2 linked regions of the Homo sapiens genome follow. The protein of the gene in region 2 binds, or shares a complex with, the protein of the main gene of each other region. Each region holds a gene or a part of one and is shown on either strand. Other genes may lie near its edges.

Region 1 (10,879 bases), on a different chromosome or scaffold from region 2:
CCATCTAGATGCCACCTTCCTGGTCAGTATTTCCCTCAAGTAGTAATCAATGCCGGAAAGAATACTGTTCATTTATTCATCCGTTATTGTCATCGCTTCATTGGAATTTAGCTTCCTACAGGGATGGTGTTTATCTTGCTCACTATGATTCCAGCCCCTAGAAAAACCCACCTACCTCATAGCCAAGGGCTCAGTAAATAGTATACACTGCCTTCCTGCCACTGTGCTAATTTCTACTAACACAGCCACAAACAATCAGCAATTACATTTTCTGCTTGTTTTTAACGGGGAAGTAGGGCACTCAACGAAAAGGAAATAAAAGCAGAGTCAAGAAAGTGCCTTTTATCCATGGAGTGCCCAATGTGTTGTGCGGCCGGCCACGTATATAGGGATGTGTCAGCACCTGAGATTTTTCCTTCTCTGAGCTAGCTTCTTTCCTGGAAATCATGCTGGGCCCTTAGCCTTATGGTTCACCCTGTTTTTTAAGATCATCCACGGGCTTCATTCCCGTAACCGCTCTTCTAGCTGGCCAAGGCGGCGGGAAGAAACCCCACCCTCTTGCGCAAACGCCCAGTAGCGGAATCCGCGGGGTCGAGGGCTTTAGTGTGCGCATGTGCAACCAGAGCGGCGGCGGGAAGTGTTGCGCAGGCGCATCCGATCGACTCGGTAGGTGGGGATCTCTTGGAGACGGCGACCCAGGCATCTGGGGAGCCACAGAAGTCGTACTCCCTTAAACCGTGAGTTTCCGACGGTTTGTTCCATGGCGCGGGATTGTGAGGGATTAGGAACGAATTCTGGATCGTGACTTCGGTTTTCTCGCCGTGCAGTTCCTTTTCCCGCCCCCCTTCGGATCCCTCCGACCTGCGGCGGGAAAGTCGCGCGCCTGCGCACTAAGCATCTGGTTCGGTCTCTGGCCCGAGGGAAGCCGGTCCTTCCCGGCTGAGCTCGCGGCCAGCGCTGGCCGGCGGATTCCCATTCATTCACCCTTCTCCTCCTCCGCCCAGTACTCGTGGCCAGGGTCGTATCAGTTCTCCGTCAACTTGCTTGGGGCCTTGGACGAGCCTCCTGGCGCTTCCTGTCAGTGGCGAAAAGGTTTTCTCCCTCAGTTCTTTTCCTGACTTCAAACCGCCCCCGGCGCTCGGCCCCTCCCCCACGCGGTCCCGCTGGCTGTGCCGGACTGGCAGCCTCGCCGTTTCCCACTGCGCCTGCTGCTGCGCGGGTGCCCAAGCCGGGAAATTCTCCCTGCAGCCCCCTGCCGGTGTTTCTGATAGGTGAAAATAAAGCACATGGAATTCCTTAGACAAGGCCACAGTATGCCCTACTGTGGAGGTTTGGACACATCGTGCGTTTGAAAATGTTTGCCCCTTTGGGGGGCAGTAGCATGTTTTTAGTGCGTGGTTTAGCGAGTGATCTAAATTTCTCTAGTGTTCTAATTTTCACAGCTGCTTTGCTCCCCCTGTGGATGTAACCCCTTAGCTGGCATTTTGCATCTCAATTGGCTTGTGATGGAGGCGTCTTTGGGGATTCAGATGGATGAGCCAATGGCTTTTTCTCCCCAGCGTGACCGGTTTCAGGCTGAAGGCTCTTTAAAAAAAAACGAGCAGAATTTTAAACTTGCAGGTACGTGTTTAAATCCAAAGATGTACAGTTATAAAGATTTTTCAGGCAACAATTCTGTGTTTTCAATTCCTCTCAAAAAATAAGATTGAATCTTATAAAGTGAATTGTATGTTTCTATAGGACAGTGTTAAAACAGAGCTTCGTATGATCTAAATGTAGGACTGAATTGCGATTTGGAAGACTGTAATACAACCTGTTTTACGGTTGAAGTTGCTATGGTCTCAGTATTGGTAATTAAGAATGCAGAAATTTGATGATGCCCAAATTAAATTTCTCTTTTGTATCTGTGTTCTTATCTCTACTCACCACATTGCCTTAAGCTTAAATGTAGAAATTGACACTGGAGATCATCACTTAAGTATTCAAAAGCAGAACTCACAGACAAAAAAATATGAAATGTTTGTAGCAATAATAAAGCACCATATCTCAGTGTACAGCATGAAATGTTCTTTGACCGTAAACCAGACCTTAGGGTGAATAAGACAGGGTCAAGCAGTGCCTGCTCTTGTACACTCGCATGTGTACCTTCATTTCTGCTCTGGCACAGGACCTGGGACATAGTAGGTATTTGTTAATAATAAATATTTGTTAAATAGAGGAATTCTAGTTGACTGTATTTTTTTTTTTCTGAAAGGGTAGCCAGATCATCTTTCCCATCTTTGTCTTAAGTGAATTCTGTGCTTGTCTAAAAGATACTTATTTTGACCTTTTGTCCATATATTCTTTATAACCCCACCCTAGAAAAATATGACATCACATACTTTCTGCTTTGATGGAAGTCAGTTATCCCACTTACCTAAACTTGAAACTTTAATCTTCAGCTGATGCTTTTTATTTGTTCCCCATATCGTCACCTAGCTTTATTTCTTTTTAGTAAGTATGGCATTGTGTCTTCTTTCCATTCCCATTTCCACCACATTAATTAATTTCCTTACACTTTGTTCCTGATTTACAACAGTTTCTCACCTATGCTGCCTGCTTGCACTTTTCCATTCTTCAGTTCATCTTGTATGTTGGTGCTAGAATAATCTTAAAATGCCACTTTCATCCAGTTTCATGGATACTGTTCCTCTTCCTTTCCATTTTTCCAGCAGTTAGCTGTTTTTTTAGTTCATCTTTCCCTTACTAGTCACTGGACACATAACACAGTAACACAGTCATTGTAGTATTCTTTTTCTATTGCTTAGGACTCTGCATTTTGTCTCCACTGTAAACCCCTTGGCGGCAGTATCTCCTCTGGTTTCTAAAGTATGTTGTGACTTCAGCAGAGTATCTGAATGGATGACTCTGAATTGGTTCTAGCATCATGTTTAGGAGAATGCCACTATTCTAATATTCTGAAAATCTGCTGGGAAGTAATGAATGGGGTGAATTTTATTACGGATTTCAAAAGTTTTGTAGCGTTTATGTAACAGAACATTGGACATTATAATATGATAAATTATAAAACGTGCTAAAACTTTACTCTTATGGTTCTTTTTTAAATATGATCTTAATAACAGCTAAAGTTATATAAACATAACTTCAATAGGGAGCAAAGCTGATGAGGTCCAGGCACATAACAGTCTAGTAATCTAATTGGGAAAGTAAATCAAATTAGATCATGAGACAGGTATATGCCTGCACCTCATCAACTTTACTCCTTATTGAAGTTATATTTTTGATTGGATGTTTTATATATCTTAGCATTCCCAGAGCTTAACAGTGTCCAGCACATAGTAGGTGCTTGAAAATATTTGAATGAATGATTTAATGTAAGGATATAAAGTAAAATACTTAGTGTAATGGATGAATAGCATGTCTCTTTATTTTGAGATATTTGTCAGATTTTTATAACATTTTTCTGATAAACATGATTATTGAAATTTTTGAAGTAAAGAAAGCCAAAATAAAGTCTTTTCCCATTATTGAAATATTGCCACTGTTGACATTTTGTTATATTCCTTTAGCCTTTCTAGGCATACATAGGTACATTTTTTAGAAACTAAATTGGGATCTTGTTTTGTTTTTGTTTTTGAAAAGAGAACCAGAATATGGGATCTTATTTCTGATCTCCATTTTTTTTAATATATATCTTGAATATTGCTCATGTAGTAAATATTCTACAACTGGATTTAAGGTCCATTGCATATTATATTATAATATATTCAATCACCTTTTACTATTGACCCTATAGATTGTTTCTATTTTTTCCTATTAAGAAAAATGCTGTAATGCACAAACTATCTGGCATAATATTGGTCAAATGTTTATTCTTTCACTGTTTTGGCAAGCTTTTTTTTTTTTTTTTGAGACATGGTCTCTCTGTCACACCACTGTCACTGGAGTGCAGTGGTGCAATTACAGCTCACTGCAGCCTTAACTCCTGCACTCAAGCAATCCTACCCCCTCAGCCTCCTGAGTAGCTTGGATTACAGGCATGTGCCGCTACACTCAGCTAATTTTAAATATTTTTTTTAGAAACAGGATCTTGCTATGTTGCCCAGGCTGGTCTCAAACTCCTGGCCTCAAGTGATCCCCTCCTATCTTGGCCTCCCAATGCACTGGGATTACAGGTGTGAGCCACCATGCCTGGCCAGTAAGCTTTTATTTTTTTTTAAGTATCTACTATATGCCAAGTTTTAATAAGTGAGAAAGATCTGTTCAGTGAAAGAATGATGTATAAACTCTATATTGAAAGTCTCCTCCATACTGGTGAACTCTACTGGAAGGAAGGCTTGCTTCATTCTGTTTGCTACAATGACACCCTTAGCCATGCTTCTAAAATGGGCTATGGGTACCATCTTTGTTTGCCTGGGACAGATCTAGCTTACGGCTATTGTCACAATGTAATTATTATTCCTGCTGCCTTTTCACTCAAGAGTGTCCCAGTTTGGGCTTATATTATGTATTATCCCCTAGTTCCAGGAGGTATAAACCAGAGAGTACATGAAGCCCCAGAATAACCATGACTATATGCCTAGAGTGTCAGTTTTAATCCATGACAAGATATTGAAAACGTTTCATTTATGTGATGAATATTTATTGTCTGTTATATACATGTACTTTTTTAGGTGCTAGGGATAAATCAAACCATAAAACAGAAATTAACACTGTGGTAGTTAGACAATAGACAGAGAGTAAACAAAAGAAGTAAATACTGTGCTCAAAAGTGATTAATGTTACTAAGAAAATGTAAAAGGGAAGGGGAGATAGGAAGTATTGGGGAAGGAGATTGTAATTTTAGTGAGTATGGTTGCTCATAGCCTTCTGTAACATTTGAGCTAAGACTTCAAGGTGGTGAAGGAGTGACCTGTGCAGATATTTGGGGAAGAGCATTCCAAACAGAGGAAACGGCAAGTACAAAGACCCTGAAACGGCAAGTACAAAGACCCTGAGATGGGAGTGTGCCTAGCATTCAAGAATAGCAAGGAGGTCATTGTGGCTAGAATGGGGAAGGTAATTGGAATGAAGTCAAAGAGAGATGTAAAGAGGCTTTCTAATGGAGTGAGATGTGAAACCATTAGAGGTTTTGAGCACAATAGTGACAAGGTGACTTAGCTTTATCAGAATACTCTGTTTAAACTCTGTTTGCTATGTTGCAAGCCGACTGGCTACTATGTTACAGATAGACTCCAGGCTGGCAAGGAGTGTAGTTAAGGAGACTATTGGTATATTAAAACCAACTTGGATATATTATGCAGCAGAAAACAAAAGTGACTTAAAATGTCAAAATAGAAGCCTAGACCTTCATGTATAAAATAGAGGCATTTAAATAATTTTTAGCATATTATAGATTTTCGGGATCCTCCTCCAGTCCTCAAAGTCTGTTTCATTTGTCTGTCTTTAGTACTGTTTTCCAGCTTTTGACATGAATGCACTTTTCTGCTTTCTGCTGTCATTTCCCACTTCAGAATTTGAGGATATTGCATTCACTTTGGTTGCCAGGAAGTTTTACTGTTGTTTAAAATTGTTGAAGTTGTTCTGAAGTGACAGGAAACCTTAATAAACATTTTGATTTTTGTAAAGAGGAGTAGATGCATAATAAGTGAGTAGTGGTGTGGAAGTACCCTTAATGTTTCTCCTCCCTTTCACATCTGTTCTCCACTTGTCATTTTTCTGCTTAAAAACTTCCTATAGCTTTCATGTGCATTCTCTCTTGTCTTCCTCAGCCACATTCTATTTCTATTATTGTTATTATTGTTATTATTATTGAGACAGGGTCTCCCTCTTCCATCACCCAGGCTGGAGTACAGTGGCACGATCATAGTTTAGTAACCTCAAACTCCTGGGCTCAAGGTATCCTTCTGCCTCAGTCTCTGTAGCTGAGACTACAGGCCCGTGTTACAAAGCCCAGCTAATTTTTGTTTGTTTGTTTGTTTTTTAGCTTTTTTAAGAGATAGGGTCTCAAACACCTGGCCTCAAGCAGTCTTCTTGCCTTGGTCTCCTAAAGTGCTGGGATTACAGGCCTGAGCCACCGCCCCAGGCCACATTGTATTTCATTGTCTCTCAGCCCTCCCCCTACCCTAATCATCCAAGCCTTTTTTTTTTCTTGTTCCTGTCTTTACAGACGTAGTTAATTTTTCCTAAAATGTTTTCTTCCACTTTCACTACTTGGTGAATGCTTCAGAACAAAACTTAGCTGTCAACTGAAGGCTTCCTATCACCTTCAGAAATCCTCCCCAACCTAGTAGTATATACATTCTTTTATTACAGGTGTCACCTTGTATTAAGAATGATAACATGTTTCCTTTACTAGACCAAGCTCTTAGTGGCTGCATCAAATTTATTGGTTTTTTTTACATACCCATTGCTGAGCATTTTTTAAGACAGCGTTTATTTAAATGAATTAGTTCTAGCCAGGTGCGGCGGCTCACACCTGTAATCCCAGCACTTTGGGAGGCCAAGGTGGGCAGATCACTTGAGGTCAGGAGTTCAAGACCAGCCTGGCCATTGTGGTGAAACCCCGTCTCTACTAAAAACACAAAAATTAGCTGGGCGTGGTGTTGCGTGCCTGTAATTCCAGCTGCCCATGAGGCTGAGGCATGAGAATCTCTTGAACGCAGGAGGCAGAGGTTGCAGTGAGTGGAGATTACATCACTGCACTCCAACCTGGGCAACAGAGTGAGACTCCATCTCAAAAAAGAAAGAAAATTAGAAAATATATATAATCAGCAACACCTCTGTGAAATTGGGCAAATGATTTAACCTCCCTGAATTGAGTTTCCTTATCTGAAAAATCAGGATAATCATTCCTGCTCTGCCAAGTTCACAGTACTGTTAGGAAGACCTCAAAAGATACTGCATGTGCCGGTGCTTTGAAAATGTCTTAAACTTATGCTATATAGGGCTAGTAGAGCCTAGATACTGTAATAAAATCTGAAGACTTATCTAGTTCTCTTCTGTATCCAGTAGTTTACTGGGTTTTGTATTATTGCCTCCCCTTGTTTTAACTATGTACATTTTTATAAAGAACTGATACTTATTTAAAAGTAGCAATTTATCTGCAGTCAAGGATAGAGGATACTACTGGCAATTGGGACAAATTTTTAAAAATACTTTTTTACATGCTTGAGAGCTTTAGTAGGCCTTCTCTCTGAAAATATAGTGTGAATATTTAATACATAAAATTTTACCAAGCCTTTAAGATTTTGTATCTTTACGGGAAATAGTTTTCAAGAACATCGCAATGTGTCCTTGTCATGCCATCTAGTGATCACAGCACAAATTGTTTAGTTATTTTAAAAATTTGGTGCTTTTTCATGTTGTAATCTCTACAGTAACAATGTATCTCTTAGTATATAATTCCAGTATAGTAGAAATTTGGTGTATTTAATTCTGGGACTGTCATTTTTGTCTGTTCAAGAGGTGTGTGTGAGTTATAGCAACTTGATGGGTTTTAATCTTATCACAATGTTATTAAAACTTATGTATAATTAATTACTCATATTTTATAATTTATTTCATTGAGCTTTTTAAATTTTAAGAAACTGTAAAATATACTGTCATTGATTAAAACTCTAAATTTTTGTTTCCTTGAAAGGTGTTAAAAAAGATATTGAGAAGCTTTATGAAGCTGTACCACAGCTTAGTAATGTGTTTAAGATTGAGGACAAAATTGGAGAAGGTAATCTGGGGATATGCTTTTACTATTTTTACGAGGTCTTTTTTCCATTCTATTTTCCTTTTTTAGTCTTGGTTTTCATTACTATTTCTTATTGAAAAATATACCACTTTTTAGACTATTAAGACCATAGTTTTATTACTAATTATGGTAACAGCTTTTCTTTTTCAACCTTAAAGAAAGAATAAATAATAAATATTTACTGTAAAATGAAGTCCTGTTTTAATGTATTATGCCATTGAAACAGTTTTTACAATCTATCTTAGAATTGTTTCATTAACATTTTTAAAAACCAGATATTGAAAAATTTAATAAATTGTTTTACAGGCACTTTCAGCTCTGTTTATTTGGCCACAGCACAGTTACAAGTAGGACCTGAAGAGAAAATTGCTCTAAAACACTTGATTCCAACAAGTCATCCTATAAGAATTGCAGCTGAACTTCAGTGCCTAACAGTGGCTGGGTAGGCAATTTAAACATATTTTAATTGAACTTGTATATAATTTATAAGATTTTAAAGTAGATATTTAGCAGGGATGAGGGGATTATATGTGAATTAAATACATTTTTCAGTCAAGTGTTTGCAATTTGCTAGCACTTTCCTTCTAACCTTGCAATAGTTAGTTAAATTTATAGTAATTCTTTTAGATTGGATTTCCCTTGAGGCTCGACCTGATTTCCTGTCTTTTATCACTGCTTTTTGTAACCTTCCTGCCAAATCATAAACCTTGGCTTTCATGGTTTACATTATTTTGTAAATGTAGGGAACTCACATTTCACATTTCCCCAGCTATTGACGACCTCATCTAATATTTTATTTAGAATAACAGAATCATCTGGTATGGTTTCTCTCTGCTAGGTCATTTCTGTCAACATATGGACATGATTTAGAATCTTACCCTCCTAAACTGCCCTCCTTCTTCCACCTGCTCCATCATTTCTTTGTTCCCCCTTACAGCCAGACTTCTCAAAAATTATCTGCATACATTGTTTTCATTCCACACCTCTCTTTCACTAAATACCTATTGCGGCTGTTCTTCTCTATGCTAAACTGGAAACTATAGAGTCAATCATTACTCTAGGCATCATTTAACACAATTGACGTGAACCCTTGTCTTGACTTCTGTCCTGCCACACCCTCCTTGTTTTCTTCTTCCCTCATTTGGCCTTTCATTTTCAGTGTCTTTGCTAGCTCTTCCACTTCTATCTGACCCCTAAATATTGGAGTTCCTCGTGCTTGCTCTTAGGTTTCTCTGTATTCTTAGTGTCCTCCATTTCCACATGATCTAAAGTAATGATTCCCAAAAGTATATAGTTAATCTCAGACCTTTTATCTTAACTACAGGTTTGTGTATATCCACCTGCCTATTTAACATTTCCACTTGGTGCCTGATAAATATCTCAAACCTAAAAGACAAACCTAAACCTTAACATACCAAAAAAAAAAAAAAAAACACCACAACAAATGTTCTTATCCACCCGTCTCTGCAAATGGCCCATCTACACACTTGTTTGGGCCAGAAACCTAGAAATCATCCTCATTTTCTCTATTTCTCTCCTAAACCACATTAATCACTAAGTCCTAGCCATTTTGGCTCTAAAGTATATCTAGAAGTTCATCCATGTCTTTCTGTCTTCTCTGCCACTACCTCAGATGAAGCCTAGACTACGACTGTAGCCTGCTTCTTCCTTCTCCCCTTAATTCTGTCTTTACACAGCAGCCAGAATGATCTTTAAAATATAAAATATATATGTATATAACTTAAATTGGGTCATTAGTTCCACCACTTAAAATCTTTCAGTGGTTTCCCTATGTACTTTGAAAAAAAAATTCAACCTTCTCATGCCTATCTTCCCACCTCCCTCACTGTGCTCCATTTCTTTAGTTTATCAAATTTGTCTCAAGAGCTTTCTTACCTCAGGGCCACTGCCCAGACTGTTTCCCCATTCAGGAAGACCTCTCCCAGTCATTGCTTGCTGACCCTTCATCTTCTGATCTGAGCAAGAGTGAAACTGGACGCAGTAGTTCATGCTTGTAATCCCAGCACTTTGGGAGGATTGCTTGAGGCCAGGAGTTTGAGACCTGCCTGGGCAACCTAGCAAGAACCCATCTTTACAAAAAACTTAAAAATTATCCAGGCAAGGTGGCACACATCTGTAGTCCCAGCTACTTGGGAGGCTGAGGTAGGAGGATCGCTTGAGCCCAGGAGTTTGAGGCTGTAATGACCTGCGATCACTCCATTGCACTCCATCCAGCCTGGTCAACAAAACAAGACCCTGCCTCTGAGAAAAAAAAAAAAGAGTGACATTGCTTGAAAGATGTCTTCTCTGAATTAAATTAGATTCTCCTATTTTTTTTTATTGTCATAGCATCTTTAGATTTCTTTCAAAGCCCTTATCGTATTCTGTCATTATAAGTTACCTTGTTATTATCTGTATTGTCCACTAGATAGTAAACTCCATGAGGACAGAAATTCTGTAAATTTTATTCACTATTGCATCACTAATGTCTATAATCCCTAACAGCAAATAACAGTGCCAACTAAATACTGAATGAATGAATAAGCCTGTTTGTTTCAGCCTTCTGTGTATTATAGAAGACAAGAAAATGAGATGGCCTCTATAAAGAATGCTTGCATACATTCTTGTACCCTAAATATGATCATTTCTTTTTCTATATTTTTAACTGTCTCCCTCTACCACTTTTTCTTTTTCTGTGCTTAAAAAAGTACATGCTAAAAATGCCTTCATCTGATCTTACAATGCAGTCAGGCAAATTGTCTTCAGGCTCAGCTTCCATTGTGTTATATTTTCCTTCCTTCTGTTTTGTTTCTTCCTTTCCACTTAAATTGCTGTCTTAAAAATTACCAGTTAATTATTCTTTGCCTAACTAAAAGCCTTCCCTCAGTTGTTATTCTCTTTGACTTCCATGCTAATAACTCTTCCTTCAAAATTCCTTTCTTATTTGGCTCTCTAACTTGGCTTCTTCCAAGCTCAGTTTTCTTTTCTCGCTATTAATTTTCATGTCTGTAGGTATCACTTCTCTGCAGGTACTCTCACTGACTTCTCACTTGTCTTCTCACTTAAGGCTTAGTCCCTTGTCTAGATAACTCTATCAAAATGATGAGGTCTGGTTTTAGATGCTTCTTTTACTGG
Region 2 (10,816 bases):
CTCTATTGGTCTGTATGTCTGTTCTTATGTTAGTACCACTTATTTCCTTTGGTTTTTAATTTCTTACATAGTTAAAACTCCTTAGAGTGAATAAAACGCCCTTTGCAATCTAGCCCTAATATAATTTTGTTTGCTGTCACTTCCCCCACCTATATCCTAAGCTCAAATCCCACTGCAACATTAGTAGTTGTACAAACAAACTGCATTGACATATATTTTAAATATGCTTTCCTCTATTTAGTATGTCTATTTGCCTTGCTAACTAAGACTTCAAGATCCAGCTCAAACTTTATCTCTGTTGATTCCAAACGGCAGAGTTAATCATTCCTATCTCTGTGTTCTAATAGCAATTTCTACATATTTCTGTCAAAGCATTGACAACACTCTAACATAAATTATTCAGTTGTCTGAGGTTTCCACTAGACAAAGAATACCTAGAGGGTTATATTTTACTTATTTTTGTATCTCTAGGATCTAAAATAGTGCTGATATACTGGAGACAGTGGTGGAATAATTTTTGAATGAATTCCCACATGCCCAAATCTTCATCATTCTTCAAAGCCGTGTTCCAGTTGTGTGTGAACAAAACCCACAATTCCTCAGCTGGAACTAATCTCTCCTTTCTCTTGACATTCTATGTTGTATTATTAACACAATTACTTGTACCAATGTCATCTCTAGCTAGGTTAGAACATGAGGATGGGATGGACATAAGGATTCATTTTTTATTTTATTTTTCTTTTGAGACACAGTCTCGCTCTGTTGCCCAGGTGGAGTGCAGTGGCACAATCTTGGCTCACTGCAACCTCCAACCCCCAGGTTCAAGAGATTCTCCTGCCTCAGCCTCCCCAGTAGCTGGGATTACAAGTGTGCGCCACCATGCCCAGCTAAATTTTTGTATTTTTAGTAGAGATGGGGTTTCACCATGTTGGCCAGGCTGGTCTCAAACTCCTGACCTCAAGTGATCCGCCTAACTCAGCCTCCCAAAGTGCTAGGATTACATGCGTGAGCCTCCGAGCCTGGCTGGATTCATTTTTGAATCTACCAAAACACAGAGTGCAGTGCACATCATACTCAAACATTTGTTGAATCAATTTTACCAGGGTCTTCAATGTATTAGATATTGTTGAATCTATGCCATTTAAAGAGTAAACTCAAAACGTATTTTCTGATGACTCAAGGTGATCATGACGAACATCAAACATTTTACAGTTCAAGCTAATACGCCAAGGTATCGGCCTACATTTCTGTTCCTCTCCAATTGCCTTATTTTAGCCAAAACTATTTAGACATGGACCTAACTGTGGCTGATCCCATGTCCTCCTTAGATGGTTCTGTAACACCTACTTTTCTTGCACTATTAAAGGTATTTCCCCTTTATATCAGAATCTGGGTGCTGTGCTCTCAGTGGTTAAATTTGTCAGAAGCATACTCTGCAGATAAATGGGATATTAAGATGTTTTCACCGAGATTATAGAAACCAAAGTACGTGAAATGGTGAATTAAAAAGGCACCTAAAGTAATGATGTGAAGATAAATTAACTCATGTAGAAGATCGTTATGACAAAATCTTTTTTAGTGATAGAAACAGTAAATGTGCTGAAGACAGAAACCAGGACCTGAGGATTAAATATCATTAATTATAGAAAAGATAGTATGGGAAGATCAGAATTCAATAAATAAGACATTTTTTAGGAGAAAGTTAATAAATCAAATTCCATTGAAAATCCACAGCTTTGGATTTTTGGGAAATCCAAAGGAAAATTTGGGAACTTACACCCTTAATATGCTCCTAACTTCACTGGTCTACTTCAATCATTTCAGGGGTAAAGACTAAGTATGTAAAACCAAAAGGTCCCTCAACTATTATGTATGGCAGAAGTAATTCAAAATTTGTTTCTTGCAATTACCTCAGGAACTGCTGTGGAGATAGAAGAAAGAAGGTGACGGGGCAAGTAGTTCTTGCTTTAGCCTCTGTACTGCTGTTTTAGCCCAAGGGGTTCCCTTTTTACAGGCTTTACACATTGGACTTCTGAATATTATTTTGTTTAAAGGGTTCTACTGATAAAAACACAAATCTAAGTATCACTGATTTAGACCATTAGACCTAGAGTTAATGGGTTGTTCATCATATTTGAGAAAATTGTCATCAAACTGTATCAGATAGCTACTTTGAGCTACCTTTTTTTTTTTTTTTTGGACATAGGGTCTCACTGTCACTCATACTGGGGTACAGTGGCACAATCTTGGCTCACTGCAACCTCCGCCTCCCAGGTTCAAGTGATGCTCATGCCTCGGCCTCCCGAATAGCTGGGACTACAGGCATGCACCACCATGCTTGGCTAATTTTTGTATTTTTCAGTAGACATGGAGTTTTGCCATGTTGCCCAGGCTGGTCTTGAACTCCTGGCCTCAAGTCATCTACCTGCCTTGGCCTCCAAAAGTGCTAGGATTACAGGTGTGAATTACCAGCCAGATAGCCATTTGTAGCCATTGATTGCTAGAGGAACAGAATGGTGCAGGTACTATGTTGCTGTGGGAATTAAGAAGCTAATACTGCTCTAATTGGGCCATTTACTTTCTCTGGACCTCAAGTACTTTGTTTCTAAGATGAAGGGGTATTTTTTACTCAATGTCTAAGGTCCTTAACACATTAAGATACTCTTAATAGGTGTATAGTCAATAGGGTGGCAGGCCTAGAAAACATGACCTTTAAGAATGCTGTCATATGATCATTACCATAAATACAACTATTACAAGCATGTGACAGTGTTTTAGTTTAACAAAATGAATAGTAAAAAAGTAGAATAACTTTTCAGAGATAAGTAAATAAAATATATTAACAGTTCCAGGAAACCTGTTAGCACATGTTCTTCTGATAAGTTTCTAGTCTGGGAATCGGCTGGGCCTGGAGGGCTCATGCTTGCAATCCCAGCGCTTTAGAAGGCTGAGGTGGGCAAATCACCTGAGGTTAGAAGTTTGAGACCAGCCTGGGCAACACGGTGAAACCCTGACTCTACTAAAAATACAAAAATTACCCAGGAGTGGTGGCACATGCCTGTAATCGTAGCTACTCAGGAGACAGAGGCTGAGGCACAAGAATCACTTGAACCTGAGAGGAGGAGGTTGCAGTGAGCTGAGATCGCACCACTGCACTCCAACCTAGGCCATATAGAATGAGACTCCGTCTCAAAATAAAAATAAAAATAAATTGAAAAGTTACTAGTCTGGGAATGAAAGGATCAGTTTAGACATTCAAAGACGCAGACCTTCAGAAAGTCAAAGTCCAGCATGAACCTTTTAAACAGAAAAAAATCTTAATTACCTCATTTGCCAAAATTCAGCCAATATCAACCTTAATCCTATTAAGGTCCTAGAATTTTGCCTGAGTTTTCTAATTTCCCAATCATCTAATCAGTGTATAAGGTAGGAAAGAAGGTATTCCAGATTCTTAATGCAAATTTCTTTTCCTTTAATAACATTCATTCTGTTGAAACAACATCTGTATCACTCAGGAACAATTTTAACTGTGGTTTGCATGGCTGTTCTGTAGTAACATTCTTAACTGTTACACTAGTCCAGACAAACTTATGTAGCTCCCCAAGATTCATAATCAAGAAATTGCTGTTATCTGGAGGACATTCCAACATTACAGTAAGCAGTCAATGAGCAGTTCCACTAGGACAGGGGAGTCTTACACTCTAAGAACTTTACACTAGACTGCTAATCAGAGAAACCTGAAAGGTCTGTCAGTCCACAAAAGGTTAAAACAAATGGTTTTTTGTTAACGATAAACAGCTGATAAAAATGTTAAGCTTGGTGCTAATAGAAGCGTTTTCCAAAATGAAAAATTTAAATGATTACACAGTAGAAAGTACTAGTTACAAATTTTTCCTTCTATGCCAGTGTACGGTTTTCACTTACCCCTCCCAGATCCTTAATGTCCTTTTGAAGTTTTTCAGATATGGTGACAGAAGGTAAGTCAAGGTAAAATACTTTTCCCCAAAGTGGCTTACATTTGGATTTTTCTGGCCTGTTATCAGTTTTCAGAGATTTCAGAGATGGTCTGTTTTTTTCATTTTTGACTTGGATTCCACCTATTAAAGATGTTTAGAATCAGATGTTTTACACAGACACTTTTACTATTTTTAAAATATTTCATTATACAATATTACAGAATAAAAATCCTTACAACCCTACCAGTTTAAGTTATTAGCATTGAAATGTATTTCTTTGTAGTACTACTTAGGATAGAGGCAAAATGCCCTATATACTTTCACAGACCGCATATTGTAAAATAATAGTTGACTCAGCAAGAAATATTCGTGTGTTTATTCCTGAGGCACGGAACTATATAAAACTCTTTTGAAAGATTTTCTTTTTTTAGGATGTAAACTCCATGGGGATATTTAATACTCAACTATTTATTGAGCATCTGCCATTCTGCTGAACATTCAAAACTGGTGTTTAAACTTCATTTAGCGATGAAAGAATCCTCTGTTACGCAGAATAACCTAGTCCTCAAGGGTTTCAGACTGCTCAAGTTTTAGTTTCATATAAAGTTTGTCTGCATATTAACAACTAAACGGTCCATTTCACATACAATTTGTCTACGTATTAAGAACTTAACGGTCCATTACGAAGAACTAAACCTTTCATTATTTTCATTAGAAACAGATCTGAGATCCAAGCAACTGCTTTAAAAATTAATTTTTCAAACGCAATCTGTTCTTAAATTGGTAGTTACTACACACACACAAACACCTGTACAAAAAACTTAGGTGCTGGAATGTTTCACCAAATAAAGTGACTGAAAATGGAAATTTGCTTTTGTTTCCCTGTTTGTAATGTTGAAACCAGCAATGGGGTGTTTGAAATACAATGCTTTCCCCCAACTTATGAGGAAAGGAAAATAAACTTTCAAGGGTAAGACCAAAAATCCACCCACAATCACTCAATCTAATCCTGAAGCGAAAAGCCACGAGCGCGTCTGACTTTAAATTGAGGATGCAGTCCGTCGCCTCCAAGGGCCCGGGCGGAGGCTTAGCATATGCGAGAGCCCGGGAGCAGACAGCGCCGCAGTCCCGGCGAGGTCCCGGATCTGCACATTGTTTGCTAGTTTTCAACCGAAGGCACGACCGGGAATCAATCTGGGACCGCCGCTGTAAACGGCAGAGCGCTCGAGGGGCCGGGTCAGGATCCGTTCCTTCTTAGGCAAAACACTGAACGGGGGCTCCTTCCTTCAGACCCCAGAGGCCGGTCAGAAGAAAAGAAGCTGAGGACCCGGCGGGAGAAGTCTGAAGAATCAATGGTGGAACCACGAGGGGAGGAAAGGATTAAAGGGACTGCAGGCGGAGGAGGGGCTTCTTACCCTGGAAATGTCCTTTACTGTGGATCCTCATGGCTCCGGAGTTCATGGCAGTCGCCCGGCACCTACATGCTGGGTCCGGAGAAAGTGTCGCACCGGGCAGCCGCGAAAGCACGGCTTCCCCCGGCCTGTTGACAGGACGGCCGCCTCTCTCCTTCCGCCAGCTACGGCCTCTACGCAGTAGAGGTACCGCGTCTGCAGGTCGGGTTTCCGGGGCCGGATCCGGCTCCAAGGCGCGGAGGAGGAAGGCGCAAAGCACAAACGAGTGGGCTGCGGCGGTTGAAGATTTGAAAACGCGTCACGCGGCCGCGGCGCCGATACGCGCGCCCCGCCCCGTCTCACGCCACGCGCCGTGCCCCGCCTCGCGCTCGCCCCTCGTGCCTGCCTTCTCGCGCTGCGCGCCCCGCCCCCTCACGCCGCCGTCCTTCTCGCGCCTCGCTCTGGCCCTGCAGGTTGTGTTTCCGCCTCTACCCCGCCTCCATTCCGTTGCTCTCTCAGTCTCAGACCCGGGCTCTCGGTCCGCCGCTTCAGGTCTTGGCGCAGCCTCAGAGAGTTGGCGCGGCTCTGTGTTGACCAAACCTAGTGGATGCAGTTAGCGCCGGAGCCCGGCCCCGCCCGTCACCAGGGTTATTCCCGCCTTCTAGGTTTGCCAGGACTGCCGGCCCTGCAGCTGCCTTCTGCCCCAGGTATGCTAATTTTCCACTGGTCGGACGTCTGGGAAGCTGAAGGCGAGGGGCTTTGGCTGAGTCCGGACTCAGCTCTGGCCGGGCCCGGGGCCGGGGCCGGAACCGGAGCCGGACAGCGGCGGCAGCCGCAGCCCCTGCTCAGCGCGCCCTGGGTCGCACAGCAAGCGGGGTTTTCCCGCGGTCACTGCCGACCCCACCGGCTGAGGACAGCTGCAGAGGGACGTGCGGGAGTGAGGGCGGCCCCGGGGGGCGTCTGAGGGAGGGTCTGGCCAGGCGGCCCCGGCCTTGACGGCAGCGCCACCGCAGAACGCCTCCAGGTCACTTTGTGTCCTTGGGTAGTTGGCTATTTGCGCTGTCCTGTTGACTTTTATTGTATTCAGACCTGTTTTCTTTTAGTTGAGTGTAAGTTTATTTCAACAATGAAGGAGTGGAAAGTAACATCTCATTTTTTTTTCCTGTAAAACAGAGATTAAAGATCAAATTAAAATGCTTGTGAATATATTTTAATTTTATAAGTTGGAACATGCCTCTCCAAAAAAAAAAAAAAATCTGTTTCTTCAGGAGGAAGAGGATATTTTGAACTATTTTGCATTCCTCTACTCCAGGCCATAATAGGCACTCCTGTAGTGGTTGATTTTTTTACCTGGTAGCTCAAGGAAGTCAGAGTATCAGCGTTACGGTTTTGCAGGTAGGTACCTTAAAGAATAGACAAGGGTGGGTTGTGACAAGATTAGCTGGAGAACGCAGAGAACAGGTTTGCTAAGGGAAATGAGAGTTTGGTTTTAGACAGGTTTATGTTGAAGGGCCTGGGGCGACAGTCATGGAACTATGCTTATTAGACAGTTAAAGATGTTTATGACTCGAGAGAAATGTCTAGCAGAAGTGGACATGGGAAGAGGAAATAGAGATTGATTTGATATCTCTCCAATAAAATATTTCTGCATCAAGGTCTATTGATGTCAATCATGGGGCAATTCATTAGAGGTTAACAGATCTTGAGTGGTGGAAGGAAGTGTAGTTTGAACAAACATATTCAATATTGTAATTTCTATGGGAAAAAACTTATTTTCAAAATATAAGCTACAGAGAGCACAAAATGTTTATATTTACAGAAAGATTTAAAAAGTTGGGAAGCACTAATATAGAATGTAGTTAAAGCTTTGGGAGGAAATGAAATTGCCAAGGAGAGCATGTGAAATAAGAGAATTGATTATAAGCGTCGTTGATGAAATAGTGAAAGAGATGGAGAAAATGCCACAGAATTGGGAAGAGACTGCAAACATTGGAATCATATGGGCTTCACTAACTACTTGGCCTCTGGGTAATTTTGAGCCCCAATTTTAATCTATTAAAAGGGGGTAGTACTTCTCAGGGATGTTGTGAAGATTAAATGAACATTTTTGAATGCTTAGTACAGTGCCTGGCACAGAGTAGAGCTCCTTAAGAGCTCCATAATTACTATCATTCTAGTGAACACTGCACCAGTTCCTTCATCCCCAGGACAGATAAGGTTAAGACTTGAAAAATAAGTATTTGATTTTGGCGTTTCAGGTATCCTTGGTTTCCTTAAGGGTAATTTGAGTAGGTGGCAGAGATAAGTACAGTACTAGATAAAAATTATAATCTTGAAGTTCAGACAGGTTGAGTGTACTCTTTCAAAAAAATTTGTTATTGTAGGAAAGTATAATGAAGGGAAGACTGGATCTTTGGAAGGTTTAGAGGATGTGGGAAAGATTTTTAAGCATGCTTCTATTGAGGAACTTTTTTTTAAAAAAGGAAGTCCCATTTTATGGTCTTGTGAAAGATGAATTGTGTGTCTTATTTGCCGTGAAGAGGAAGGACAGTAACATAGTTGCACCCTATGCGGTTAGACTCACCCTCGACTGCACTGAAGATGGTAATTCCAAGCAATAAATAAGCAGGAAGTCCGCTTTATGCAATAGTTAGTAATTTTCTAATCTATTATCCAAGGTTAGTTTTTAAAATATTACTGGAACCTAAATCTGTTAGTAGCCACAGAAAGGATATGGCTGTAGTCAGTAAGGATAGAAACCTCCTTTTTATTGTCCAGTAATCAGGTCTGTTGGTAAGAGGGTAGGGTTTGTCTTAAAGTAGATCTTGAAAATATGCTTGAAAACATTTCTTCAGAGGAAGGGTAGACATTTAAGAAGAAGTGAATGGGGGCAGGGTTATTTATGGTGAGAAACTTTGTTCAAGAGTTATATTAGGCAAAATTGGAGAACATTGAGCAGAATCATGATCTAATTAAATGAATATGTGGCTGTGAATCAAGAGAAATGAATTTTATTCATTGCTGGCCCTGTCCCTAACTAGTTTTGTGACCATGGGCAAATGTTAACCTTTCTGGCTGGGCACGGTGGCTCAAGCCTATAATCCCAGCACTTTGGGAGGCCGAGGTGGCGGATCACGAGGTCAGAAGTTGGAGACCAGCCTGGCCAACATGGTGAAACTCTGGCTGTACTAACAATACAAAAATTAGCTGGGCATGGTGGTCCCCGCCTGTAACCCCAGCTACTCAGGAGGCTGAGGCAGGAGAATCACTTGAACCCAGAAGGCGGAGGTTGCAGTGAGCGGAAATTGCGCCACTGCACTCCAGCGTGGGCAACAGAGCGAGACTCCCTCTCAAAAAAAAAAAAAAAAAAAAAGTTAACCTTTCTATGCTAGAATTTACTTATCTATAAATGAAGATAATATTGTTCAGTCTACTCCACAACTTTTTGTGATTATCAGAGACCTAATCTGATCTTTCAGATTACCTCACACATACCCAAATATAAATTTTTTGTTCTAGAATCTAGACAAATTAATTTTGTAGTACTTATCACTTTTTTTTTCTTTCTTTTGCCTAAGCCTCTTCACCTGGCTCAGCAATTATTTTTTCCTGTCCATAGCAAACCTAGCTTAGATTCATCCTTTATCTCCTGCTCATTTGGGTATAATCATTCCTGTTTGATTCATTTGCCAACTATTGATATGTCGTCTTCTGAAATGTGTTCTGATCTATTTTTATTAATTTTCACATTTCATAGTCTCACTATCCTGGTGAATTGGAGGGCTTAAGGTTATATGTAAGGTTAAATTCTTAGTTTTGCAGGCTAAGTGCATGAAAGGATAGGATTGGTTAGTGGCTGTGGAACTGTAGTTAATGTCTCAGGTGACTGTGGGCTGGGAAACCAGGGTAAATTCAGCATTATCAGGCCCTTGAAGACATCCTAAGTGTGTTCACTTTAAATTACAGGCGCCTGCCACCATGCCCAGCTAATTTTTGTATTTTTAGTAGAGACAGGGTTTCACTGTGTTGGCCAGGCTGGTCTTGAACTCCTGACCTCAGATGATCCGCCAGCCTCGACCTCCCAAAGTGCTAGGATTACAAGCGTGAGCCACTGTGCCCAGCCTGCATTTAATTTGTTTATCTTGCTTTATTGTACTGGCTAAATTCTTCAGTACTTTGTTGAATAGAAATGATGAGAGTAGTAAATGGTTCTTATCAAACCGAGGAATTTCCCTTTCATTGAAAAGGATTGAAAGGCTTGCTCAAGCCTTTCAGTCATGGTGGGTGTGGGATGTTGTCAAAGGTTTTCTTCTTCCTCTATCATCTGACTGGACGTTTATTTATTTTTTATTCTTTTGCCTCAAGGGACCAGCTTTTATTGTTTTTTCCTATTGTTTTTCAGCTTTCAATTTTATTGGTTTTTATTTTCATTTCTTCTTCTTTTGGTTCTAATTTGCTCTTTTGTTTTTAGCTTAGATAGTTAATTTTAGGCCTTCTCTAATACAAGCATGTAATGCTATAAATTTCATTGTAAATGCTGCTTTAGCTGCATCTCAAAACTTTAGGTAGTTCTTGCCATTTTCTACTTCCATGTAAGTTTTGGAAAAGAGTTTGTCAAACCCACAAAAGTAAGAAGATTATGTAAGAAGATTAAGTAAGAGGTTATGATTCCTGTGAATCTATAGATAAATTTGGAAGAATTTATATCTTTATAGCATTTATTCTTCCAGTCTATGAAATGGTAATATTTCTTCATTTATTAAGATCTTTAATAAATTAGTGAAAGGTACACAACTACAGAACCAATGGATGTTAAAATGACAACAAAGTAATATTATGAACAACCTTATGCTGATAAATTCAACAACTTAAATGAAATGGACAAATTACTTGAAGTACACTAACTGTCAAAGCTTACAGGAGAAGAAATAACCTAAATATTCTTATATCTACTAAAGAAAACTCCAGGTCTGGATAGCTTCACTGGTGAATTCTCTCACATGTGCATTTTAAGAAAGGCAAAGATGATACAAAAAATTATGGATCAGCATCCCTAATAAACATAGATGGTTAAATTCTTAGCAAAAATTTAACAAATGAAAACCAATTCTATATACAAAGGATAAAACATCATGAGTAAATGGAGGTTTATTCCAGGAATCAAGCAGTGTAAATCACCATGTAACCAGACCAAAAAGGAAAAACCGTATGTATCATCTCAATAGATACTACCTGTTGCTGTATAACAAATTATTCCAAAATGTAGTTATCTTAAAATAACTAATCTTTATTATCTCACAGTTTTTGTGTGTCAGGAATCTGGATGCAGCTTAGTTAAGCAAGCTCAGGATCTCTCAGGACAGTGCAGTGAAGGTGTTGGCTGAGGTTGCATTTATCTCAAGGCTCAACCAGGGAGGGATCTAATTTAAAGCTCACTAGGGGTTGTTGGCAAGATTCACTTTCCTTTGG

What was found.
Region 1: the proteins of DBF4 (region 2) and CDC7 are in contact, whole or in part, in a crystal structure (PDB 6YA8), measured with the Homo sapiens proteins. Residues at the interface, in NP_006707.1 of Homo sapiens: Thr210, Arg211, Thr212, Gly213, Arg214, Leu215, Lys217, Pro218, Phe219, Val220, Lys221, Val222, Glu223, Asp224, Met225, Ser226, Gln227, Leu228, Tyr229, Arg230, Pro231, Phe232, Tyr233, Leu234, Leu236, Met239, Pro240, Ile242, Asn243, Tyr244; in NP_001127891.1 of Homo sapiens: Asn56, Val57, Phe58, Ala77, Gln78, Leu79, Gln80, Ile87, Ile93, Pro94, Thr95, Ser96, His97, Pro98, Ile99, Arg100, Ile101, Ala102, Leu105, Gln106, Thr109, Lys121, Tyr122, Cys123, Phe124, Arg125, Asn127, Asp128, Val130, Leu143.

The regions. Positions count from the first base shown.
Region 1 is NC_000001.11:91,500,212-91,511,090, forward strand, and holds the start of CDC7 (cell division cycle 7-related protein kinase), read left to right. Parts: upstream 1-639; 5' UTR 640-737; exon of another isoform or gene 738-1,442; 5' UTR 1,443-1,505; coding exon 1,506-1,620; intron 1,621-7,642; coding exon 7,643-7,726; intron 7,727-8,050; coding exon 8,051-8,186; intron 8,187-10,879. UniProt on the Homo sapiens protein: Kinase involved in initiation of DNA replication. Phosphorylates critical substrates that regulate the G1/S phase transition and initiation of DNA replication, such as MCM proteins and CLASPIN.
Region 2 is NC_000007.14:87,871,334-87,882,149, reverse strand, and holds the start of DBF4 (protein DBF4 homolog A), read right to left. Parts: upstream 5,658-10,816; 5' UTR 5,418-5,657; coding exon 5,372-5,417; intron 4,098-5,371; coding exon 3,925-4,097; intron 1-3,924. UniProt on the Homo sapiens protein: Regulatory subunit for CDC7 which activates its kinase activity thereby playing a central role in DNA replication and cell proliferation. Required for progression of S phase.